Regions from separate parts of the Homo sapiens genome. Here region 1 is linked to region 2. Evidence: fine-mapped expression QTL. Tissue or cell type: whole blood. Region 2 holds a variant in brackets; the other region holds the start of a gene. All regions are shown on one strand. Distances are between the middles of the regions.

Region 1 (5,000 bases), 24 kb after region 2:
TGATACAGTGTTTCACTCTTTTGCCCATGCTGGAGTGCAGTGGCGTGATCTCAGCTCATTGCGACCTCCGCCTTCCGGTTTCAAGCAATTCTCCTGCCTCAGCCTCCTGAGTAGCTGGGATTACAGGCGCCTGGCACCACGCCTGGCTAATTTTTGTATTATCACAAAATAATACAAAAGTAGAGACGGGCTTTCACCATGCTGGCCAGGCTGGTCTCAAACTCCTGACCTCGTGATCCACCCGCCTAGGCCTCCCAAAGTGCTGGGATTACAGGCATGAGCCACTGCGCCCGGCCTACATTTCCTATATTCTTAGAGCTCATTTGAAAGCAGTTTTCAGTCACTTGTTAACAGATACTTTAATGAATGCAAAGGCTCAGCTCAAAGTCCCCTCCTCCAGGAACATCTCTTCCTTAAAGGCCTCCCCCCGGCCCCCGCCAGACTCTCCCAGGCCCACCATCTAAACATCTTTGCAGGGCTGCACCTGCCTGGCTTGCTCTGTCTGCTTCTCCCTGTGGGATGCATCTCCAGCATCCTCCCTGTCTGGTTCTGATCTTTTCTGGATGTGCTCACTGCTCTCTTGCCAGCCGCTCCCAGCTGGGCCAGCCTAGCCTGCTAGGAGGGACAGGGCAGAACTCCTACAGCCCTACTTCCAGGGGCACCAGCCTGCAAACAGCAAGCTGACTCACTAGGAGAGGTGGGTCATGGGCAACAAGGGCTGGTGGCCCAAGTCACTGGGCTACAAAGGGTCTGGCCTCAGGTGCCCAGAACATCTTTCTTAGACGTGCTAGCCAGGACAGCCTTGTCTCCCCTCCTCTTTCCCTCTTCAGATCTTGCCTGGCCCTTACCTCCCCTCATCCAGAAACCCTCCACTGTCTGTTCTGCCCCACGTGGGCACCTCCTCCTCTGAATTCTAGCCACCAACTGTCACAGGAATATAGCACGTTACAGTTTGCAACAGATTTTCACTTCCATTGGACCCTTGCTCCTTGGAACAGCCCTGAGATGTGGGCTGCACAGAAACCCGCATTGCGTGTTTGAGGAAACTGAAGCCCACAGAGATTAAGTGACTTAAGTACACAGAGCAGAGCCGAGACTTGAACTCGGCTTTGCCGATGGCCAGCACTGGGCTACTTGTGAGTTAATATTTAATCACATACAGGTTGAGGAGCCGTTATCCGAAATATTTGAAACCAGAAAAGTTTTGGATTTCGGACTCTTTCAGATTTGGAGATACTTACAGAATACCTGCCAGTTGAACATCCCCAACCCAAAACTCTAAAATCTGAGATGCTCCAATGAGCATTTGCTTTGAGCATCATGTTGGTGTTCAAAATGTTCCAGATTTTGGGTTTCAGATTTTTGAAATCCAACCTGTGATAATTAATTTTAATGACTGCGGCTGCTACTCTTATAATCACCACTGCTACAACTGCCACCACCACCACCACTGCTACCACTGTAGAACCAATGGCAGCAGCAAGGTCTGGTCCTGTGTGGGCCCCTTGATAGCAGACCTCACCCCAGGTAGGTGGTGTCTCCATATAACAGATCAGAACACTGAGGCCCAGGAAGCTGAGGGGACGTGACCAGTCTCCTGTTTGCCAGGCCTTCGTGCTTAGGCCAGGGGTTATGGAAGATAAGAACGGGTACTCGGCCGGGCGCGGTGGCTCACGCCTGTAATTCTAGCACTTTGGGAGGCCGAGGCGGGCAAATCATGAGGTCAGGAGTTCGAGACTAGCCTGGCCAACACGGTAAAACTCTGTCTCTACTAAAAATACAAAACATTACCTGGGTGTGGTAGTGGACGCCTGTAATCCCAGCTACTCAGGAGGCTGAGGCAGAATTGTTTGAACCCAGGAGGTGGAGGTTGCAGTGAGCCGAGATAGTGCCACTGCACTCCAGCCCAGGTGACAGTGCTAGACTCCGTCTCAGTTAAAAAAAAAAAAAAAAAAAAAGAAGGGGTACTCATTCTCCCCAGGAGACTGTCAGGGCTCAGGGATGCCAGGCTGGGGACCTCTGGGGCTTAAGAAGTGGAGCCCAACATCCCCAGGCGCTAAGCGTGGAGCAGGTGACCTGAACCAGGCTGTGTCCACCTTCCCTCAGGAAGGCCTCCACGATAGACCAGAGGAGCCCTTCCCTTGCTGCAGGGCCAGAGCCTCGGTTTCTCCATCTGCACATGAAACAGCCTGTCCCCAGGGGCCCCGCTGCCCCTGGAATCTGTGTGTGGGGTCAGATCTCTGCTCATTTCTCACTGTTATGAAGGGAGAAAGAACCGGCTTATGATCTAGGGCTAGGCCACAGGACATAAATCCCCAGGGAGCTTGTTCAAAATAAAGACCCCCAGTTCCCAGGGCCCTCCCTGCCTCCGGATTCTGATCCAGCAGCTCTGGGGTGCAGCCAGGGAATCCCGGGGAGCCTGTTGTTCAAGCAGACAGGAGTCACTGACACCATGGAGACTGGGACCAGGAGGCTGATGGGCCACACCCAAGGACTCCAGCTGGGCAGCAGCACAAAAGCCCAGTTACCTGTTAGAGAGAATTTCCTCCTCCTCACTTTGCAGATGGAGACGCCATTACCCAAAGAGAGAAACGGGCTTGGTCAAGGTCTCCAAGCAAGTCTACCCCAGGCTGGGAGGAGGACCACAAGGATCACTAGGCCACCAGCTGGGACCAATGCTGACACCACAGGGACATGCTGGACCCCGGTTCCCACCCCAAGCACCAACCCTGAGAGCCCACTTGGCCAACACCACCACAGGTCCCCTTACCCATATGCCCACGGCCACATTCAGAGCAAAATACACAGTGATGACGATGATGTCAGCCACGCTCAGCTGCGTCCCGGGAGTGTGGAGGTCGCTGGTGGAGTTGGCGGCCATGGCTGTCCTGCCGCAGGCACTAGGTATGAGCCCGAGGGACTGAGGGGCAAACCAGGTCAGAAAGGGTTTCCTGGCAGGGAGCTCATTGATCATTAAACCAAGCGGACAGTGGCATCTCCAGCCCATGATGTGGCTGCATGCAGGGCAGCTGCCTCACCATGCAGTTCAGCTTCCTCACCCCATGGTGGGGTGCAGATCCCAGAGCGCAGGAGTCAGGGAGCCTGGGAGAAGCAAGTGGGAGGAGGAAAGGAAGGAGCCTCCTTGAACTCGGAGGGGGCTTGGGGAAAATGAACCGCATTTAGTGGACCCGGAGGCAGCCCAAATAGTCCCAGAAAGGCTGGGTTGCTTAATGGGTGGCTTCACCTATATCTAATTTGTATAAGAAGCATAGAGCGTAGGGACAACCGCCTCACCTCTGAAGATACTGCCGTGGCGGGCAGCCATGTCCTCCCTTGGCCATCGGGCTGTGAGTGGACTGAGCAGGGCTTGGGAGGGGGACACCTGCATTATGGCTCACGTCCAGCCAACACAGCCCAGGCTCAGAGGCAGCCCCATGTCGGACAATAAAGTCCTGCTTCCAGCGTTTCTGCTTTCTTTTTCTAGACCCGTGAAACAGTCCCAGGCCCCTCAACTTGACCATGCATTCGGCCCCCACCCCGGGCAATGTCTGCCTGGGACCACAGAGGGACCCAATATCTGTCACACACCAAGGACCATGCGTGGCTGTTCTGCACATGATCCCATTTCACGGACCATGCGTGGCTGTTCCGCACATGATCCCATTTCACGCTCACAGCAGCCACGCAGAGTAGGCAATGTCTCATCCTAGTCAAGGAAATGGCCATCCGCCATTACGCAGCCATTGAAGGCGCAGAGTAGGATTCAGTGCAGATGTGGCCCCACCGTCTCCACCGCAGTGACAGTGACGAGTTCCATCTGGATTCCATCAGAGTGGGACGCTCGCTCACTAATTCTATCAGTGTACACAGCAGGGCTGGCCGGCAGTCTCACGCCTCTGCTCAGTGACATGACTCGTGACTTTGCAAAGCATTTGCAGTTTAACCAGACATGCAGCACTTCCAGAAGTGTTAATGAGTGAGCGGCTGCCACCAGGAACACGCTGGCCTGCAAACCCAGCCAGCCTGTTACTCAATAACCCTGAGGTGCGGGTAAAAATTAATCCCCTCGGCCAGGAGCAGTGGCTCATGCCCTTGGGAGGCTCATGCCTTTGGGAGGCCAAGGCGGGTGGATCACCTGAGATCAGGAGTTTGAGACCAGCCTGGCCAACATGGCAAAACCTCGTCTCTACTAAAAATACAAAAATTAGCCAGACATGGTGGTACGCACCTGTAATCCCAGCTACTTGGGAGGCTGAGGCAGGAGAATTGCTTGAACTCAGGAGGTAGAGATTGCAGTGAGCCAAGACTGCGCCATTGCAGTCCAGCCTGGGCAACAGAGGGAGACTCCATCTCACAAAACAAACAACAACAACAACAAAAAACAATTAATAGTCCTCACATACAGGACTAGGCAGAAGAAGGAAGGGAAAAAGGAAGTCACTGCTGAGAGAACCCTCAGGCAGGCTCAACTGCCTGCCGTCTCCCCTTGCCTCTGGCCAGCGAGCCTCAGATGGTGTTTACTTCCCAAGCCATTGCTTGCAATGTGTTTTAAAACAAAAGGCTGCTTTGCACTGATCAGGAGGACCCAGCTGGGAGGATCCAGACTTACCAAAACTATCCCATTAATAGAGTAGTTGTACCAGCAGCATTGGCTCTGAGACCGTTGGCTAGGTCTTAGAAGGAAATAAACCACTTAGTGATAACTGCCGCCTTTGGATCAAAAGTCCTTGGGATTTTTGCCACTGAGTTTAAATGGAAAAAAATGAAAAAAGAGAAAAAAAATCCTAGGGAAAGAAAGCACCAGTAAAGGTGCTCTTAAGGGGCTGAGACTGATTTGCTGGTTCTGTCCTGAAGGACGGGGACAGGAGGAGGGTGGCAGCGGAGGACATGGAGGGAGAAGTACCAAACAAGCCCAGCCATGTCTGCGGGAGAAGAAACGCCACCCGAAGCCCAGTCACACCCACATTCCCACCCCACCTGACCCAACGGGATCACCTATT
Region 2 (5,000 bases):
GAGATGTCACCGGCCTGGAGGTGGGGTGTGGCCAGGCCGTGCCTTCGCAAGCCTATGGGGGTCACTCTGAGAGCCGTCCTTAGGGATGGGGCCAGCTCTGTGGGCACCACCACATGGGGCATGGGGTGGGCGCTGCCCATGGTTACATGGGGGTTGGTGGCAGCATAGACGCATGGCAGCAGCGGCCACCACATGCAGAACCCCCCACAGTGTCCAGGGCCTTCCTGAGCTGCTTAGTGAATCCTGTACCAGCCTGAGAGGAGCACAGTGCCCTGTCATTTGCAGAGGTGGGAATGGGCTTGGTGCAACCAACTTGCTTGACATCCGACTCAGTCTGACCCCACAGTATGCACCTGCTCTCTGCCCCCATTCACTTCTTGATCCCAGGGCCCTGTGGCCACAGTCTGAGGCCCAGCGGCTATGGGTGCACGGGGGCTGGGCGGAGGAAGCAGGGTCATGTGCCTGACCAGCGCCCCCTCCCTCTGTTGCAGCTTCACGTGGTCGGCCGCGCGGACGGACCGGAATGTGATCTCTGTGCTGTCTGGCCAGGTGGTGGAGATGTTTGACCGGCAGTTCCAGGAGCTGTACCTCATGTCACACAGTGTGAGCCTCAAGGGCATCCCTATGGAGAAGGAACCGGAGCCGGAGCCTATTGTGCTGCCCTCTGTGGTCCCCCTGGTGCCCGCGGGCACTGTGGCCAAGAAGCTCGTCAACCCCAAGTACGCACTTGTCAAGGCCAAGAGCGTCGACGAGATTGCCAAGATCTCCTCTGAGAAGCAGGAGGCCAAGAAGCCCCTGGGGCTGAAAGGCCCAGCGCTGGCTGAGCATCCAGGGGAACTCCCCGAGCTGCTGCCACCCATCCACCCAGGACTGCTTCACCTGGAGAGGGCCAACATGTTTGAGTACCTGCCCACGTGGGTGGAGCCAGACCCGGAGCCTGGCAGCGACATCCTGGGCTACATCAATATCATCGACCCCAACATCTGGAACCCCCAGCCCAGCCAGATGAACCGCATCAAGATCCGTGACACCTCCCAGGCCAGCGCCCAGCACCAGCTGTGGAAGCAGAGCCAGGACAGCAGGCCCCGTCCAGAGCCTTGCCCTCCCCCAGAGCCCAGTGCCCCCCAGGACGGTGTCCCAGCTGAGAACGGCCTCCCCCAGGGGGACCCTGAGCCATTGCCCCCCGTGCCCAAGCCCCGGACAGTCCCTGTGGCAGATGTACTAGCCCGGGACAGCAGTGATATTGGCTGGGTCCTGGAGCTCCCCAAAGAGGAAGCTCCCCAGAATGGGACAGACCATAGGCTACCCAGGATGGCAGGCCCAGGCCACGCCCCACTCCAGCGGCAGCTATCTGTGACCCAGGATGACCCCGAGAGCCTCGGGGTGGGGCTCCCCAATGGGCTGGATGGGGTGGAAGAAGAAGATGATGACGACTACGTAACCCTCAGTGACCAGGACAGCCACTCAGGCAGCTCCGGCCGTGGCCCTGGCCCCCGACGGCCCTCAGTGGCTTCCTCTGTGTCAGAGGAGTACTTCGAGGTGAGAGAGCACTCAGTCCCTCTCCGGAGGCGCCACTCAGAGCAAGTGGCCAACGGGCCAACCCCACCACCGCGCCGGCAGCTGAGTGCCCCCCATATAACCCGAGGGACCTTTGTTGGACCCCAGGGTGGCTCCCCATGGGCCCAGAGTCGGGGAAGAGAAGAAGCAGATGCGTTGAAGAGGATGCAGGCCCAGCGCTCCACAGACAAGGAGGCACAGGTGGGTCAGGGTCCCTGCACACCAGGGGTCACGAGTCCCTCCCTGCCAGCCACCCAAGAGCTCGAGCTGTTGTCTTCTGGGCTACCATGTCCCTGACTCTGATGACTTCAATTCCCTTGTTACAGATGGGGAAACTTGATGAACAGGCAGGGGTGGGAACCGGCCAGGGCCATATGGAAGGCCATCATTAATGCTGGGGACTCTTGGTCCCAGCATCCTGAAAAGGCAACCTAAGAAAATGCACGTTTCCCCACCTAGAGGTCTCCAAAGCCTGTGGTTAGAGGATCTTGATGGCACCTGCCAGATGGGTGGCACAGTCCCTAGTTTGCAGATGAGGAAAAGGCGGGGCACAGGGACGTTCATTTACAGCCTTGAGGTCACACAGCAGTAAGTGATACCTGTCCAGACCTTGTGCCAAGCCACATCCATGTTAATCCCTTTGATTGTGGCCCTGAGGACCACTCTCCCCACTCCCCAGGTTGGGGAACAGTTCACATCTATCCTTTGCCTCTTCTTCTGGTGACGTTTGCAGGACAAGGTCCCAGAACCCTGGGTGCCCTGCAGCCTGGGTTCAGTGCCCGGAGCCCGTCCTACCTGGGAACAATGCGCGGCTGATCATGCCCGGCAT[G/T]ATGATCAGGCCCATGGGGAGCATCTTGAGGTAGCTGGCCAGGATGGAGCCCGCCTTGGCATGGTTCAGGTCCCGGGCTGACAGTGATCGCTGCACGATGACCTGGGGGTGGAGTGCGAGACGGGGTGAGTCCAAGCCTGAGGGACACTTGTGTCAGGATTGGTCCTTGGTGGGCCTCAGGGAATGGGCATGAGGCACGATGATGTCCCATTAGCCTCTGACCTGCCCAAAACAGCCACACTCAAAGCCCCAATACTGTCAGGGTCCCACCAGGAGAGCTCACTTCAGCAGGCCAAGCAGCGAGAGCCGAGGTACACTCATTCCCAGGGACTCAGTCCCCTGACCTGTCAATAGGGGAGGTGTGGATCCTGCCCAGCCCACCACCCCTGGCAATTGTCAGGGCTGGAGGAGACCCTGGGTGGGGTGGTATGGGGACATACACCCCTACCCTCATCTCCTGGACCCTCATGACAGCAGCTGGCACATTTATAGTGCCAGGAGCAGACACTGGCGCCAACTGTGTTTGCATGGCTGGCAGAGTTCAGGTGCTTTAAGACCTGGGGTTTTGAAAGCTTGCAGTTCAGTAGCAGAGGGAGGCTAGAAGCTATCTGAGGACACCGGCCCTTCTGGGAGCCTTCAGCAAATCCTAACCAGGCCTTTCCAGATTTGCAGAATGGGAGGAGGGAGCGGTAATTTGGACCCATAATGTCTGAGATCTCTCCCAGCACTGATATTACGATTCTACTTCAAAAGAGTTACTTTTTTTTTGAGTCGGAGTCTTGCTCTGTCGCCCAGGCTGGAGTGCAGTGGTGCGATCTCGGCTCACTGCAAGCTCCGCCTCCGGGTTCACGCCATTCTCCTGCCTCAGCCTCCCAAGTAGCTGGGACAACAGGCGCCTGCCACCACGCCCGGCTAATTTTTTGTATTTTTAAAATAGAGACGAGGTTTCACCTTGTTAGCCAGGATGGTCTTGATCTCCTGACCTCGTGATCGCCCGCCTCGACCTCCCAAAGTGCTGGGATTACAAGCGTGAGCCACCGTGCCCAGCCCAAAAGAGTTACTTTTTAAACAGCTTTATTGAGATATTCACAGACCATATAATTCACCCAAAGTGTACACTGTTCCCATGGTTTTTAGTACGTTCACAAAGTTGTACGACCTATGACTCTGAAACGTAACTAGTTTTCCTTTGCGGTTCCACAGTTTAAGTCACCAGCTGCAACTCAGGAGCAGGAAGCCTCTATGATTTTTTTTTTCTTTGAGATGGAGTTTCACTCTTGTTGCCCAGGCTGGAGTGCAATGGCGCAATCTCGGGTCACCGCAACCTCTGCCTTCCAGGGTTCAAGGGATTCTCCTGCCTCAGCCTCCCAAGTAGCTGGGATTACAGGCATGAGCCACCACGCCCGGCTAATTTTTTTTTGTATTTTTAGTAGAGATGGGGTTTTACCATGTTGGTCAGGCTGGTCTTGAACTCCCGACTTCAGGTGATCTGCCCGCCTCGGCCTCCCAAAGTGCTGGGATTACAGGTGTGAGCCACCGCATCCGGCTGCCTCCGTGATTTTAACTTACTTTCCAAGCTTGCTAGTTTAACGGACGGCTCCCAGCATTTACCCCTAAGCTGTGGATGTCACGGAAACATTAATTACAGAGGCTAGGAATGCCTGCGGGCTGCAGCCTCCGAACGCAGGGCAAGCTGCTGTCCTTCCTGCTTCTCTGCCAGCTTGCTGTGACTTGGGAGAAGCCCTTGCCTCAGTTTGGGCCTCAGTTGCCCCATCTGGACAATGAGAGAGTTAGACGGTGGTTCTGTCTAGGTGCTTGGGAGAGAAGCATTTCCCTAAGACCCTGAATGTCTTTTTGCCATTGGTGGGATATTTGCCTCTATATTCCAATCTGTGCTCATGTCAGCTGGCCCTGGGACAGGTGCTGTCACCCCAAGTAGAGAAGCTGAGGCTCAGAGTTTCCATGAGCTGTGAGGCCTGCCAGTCCCCCTGAATAGGGCAGGGGCTTTCCCCACCCCTGACTGTCAGATAGCAAGGCTGGGCCCCCAACTCAGATGTCAGCAGGCCACTGCTCACCCCCACCTCCCAGCACTGGTGTCTAGTCCCAGCCAGGCGCTCTTCCCTGAGGAAGCCGGCACTCACTCCCTGAGTGGCCATTTCACCTTGGGCTCCTCATCTGCAAAATGAGGAGAGTTGTTGCAACGACTTAAGTGAGGCTGCTAGTGTAGCCGGCCAAGCCTGTCCCTGGCTCCTCAAGGGCCTCCGGTGAATGTGAGTTCTCTTTCTCAGGGAAGATGATGAGTGAGTTTTGGGGTGTGGCCATTGGAGTCAGCACGCTGCCCACGAAAGCTGTGGTTGCTGTTATGACTGAGGTGGCTGCTACTGACTAAGGGAGGGCACCCGGCCTGGAGCTGCGGCATCAGCAGGTGACAGAGCTGGCAGGACCCTGGGAGGCCTTCTGGTCTGTGCACTGCCCTGTTTCACAGACAGGGACACCAAGGCCCAGGGAGGGGCAGGGGCATAGCCCAGACGGGAGCCCAGACCAGGGCTCTGTCCACTGGACCCTTTGCCTCTTTGTTACTGGTTTTGTTTCTGGTTAGAAAAATGCCACCTAC

What was found. PIP is the estimated chance that this variant, and not a neighbour inherited with it, causes the effect.
Region 1: it holds the start of SLC5A10, and the variant in region 2 is fine-mapped to the expression of SLC5A10 in whole blood (TOPMed, PIP 0.98).

Annotation. Positions count from the first base shown.
Region 1 is chr17:18,950,087-18,955,086 of GRCh38, reverse strand. It overlaps SLC5A10 (solute carrier family 5 member 10), which reads right to left and starts at 2,922. Exons shown (of 15, transcript NM_001042450.4): 1 at 2,771-2,922. The coding sequence starts at 2,881.
Region 2 is chr17:18,974,342-18,979,341 of GRCh38, reverse strand. It overlaps SLC5A10 (solute carrier family 5 member 10), which reads right to left. Exons shown (of 15, transcript NM_001042450.4): 9 at 2,353-2,488. FAM83G (family with sequence similarity 83 member G) reads left to right here. Exons shown (of 6, transcript NM_001039999.3): 5 at 492-1,758. Among named protein-coding and RNA genes, the nearest start is that of SLC5A10, 25 kb to the right of the region's middle. The variant G/T (reference allele first, on the strand shown) is at 2,387.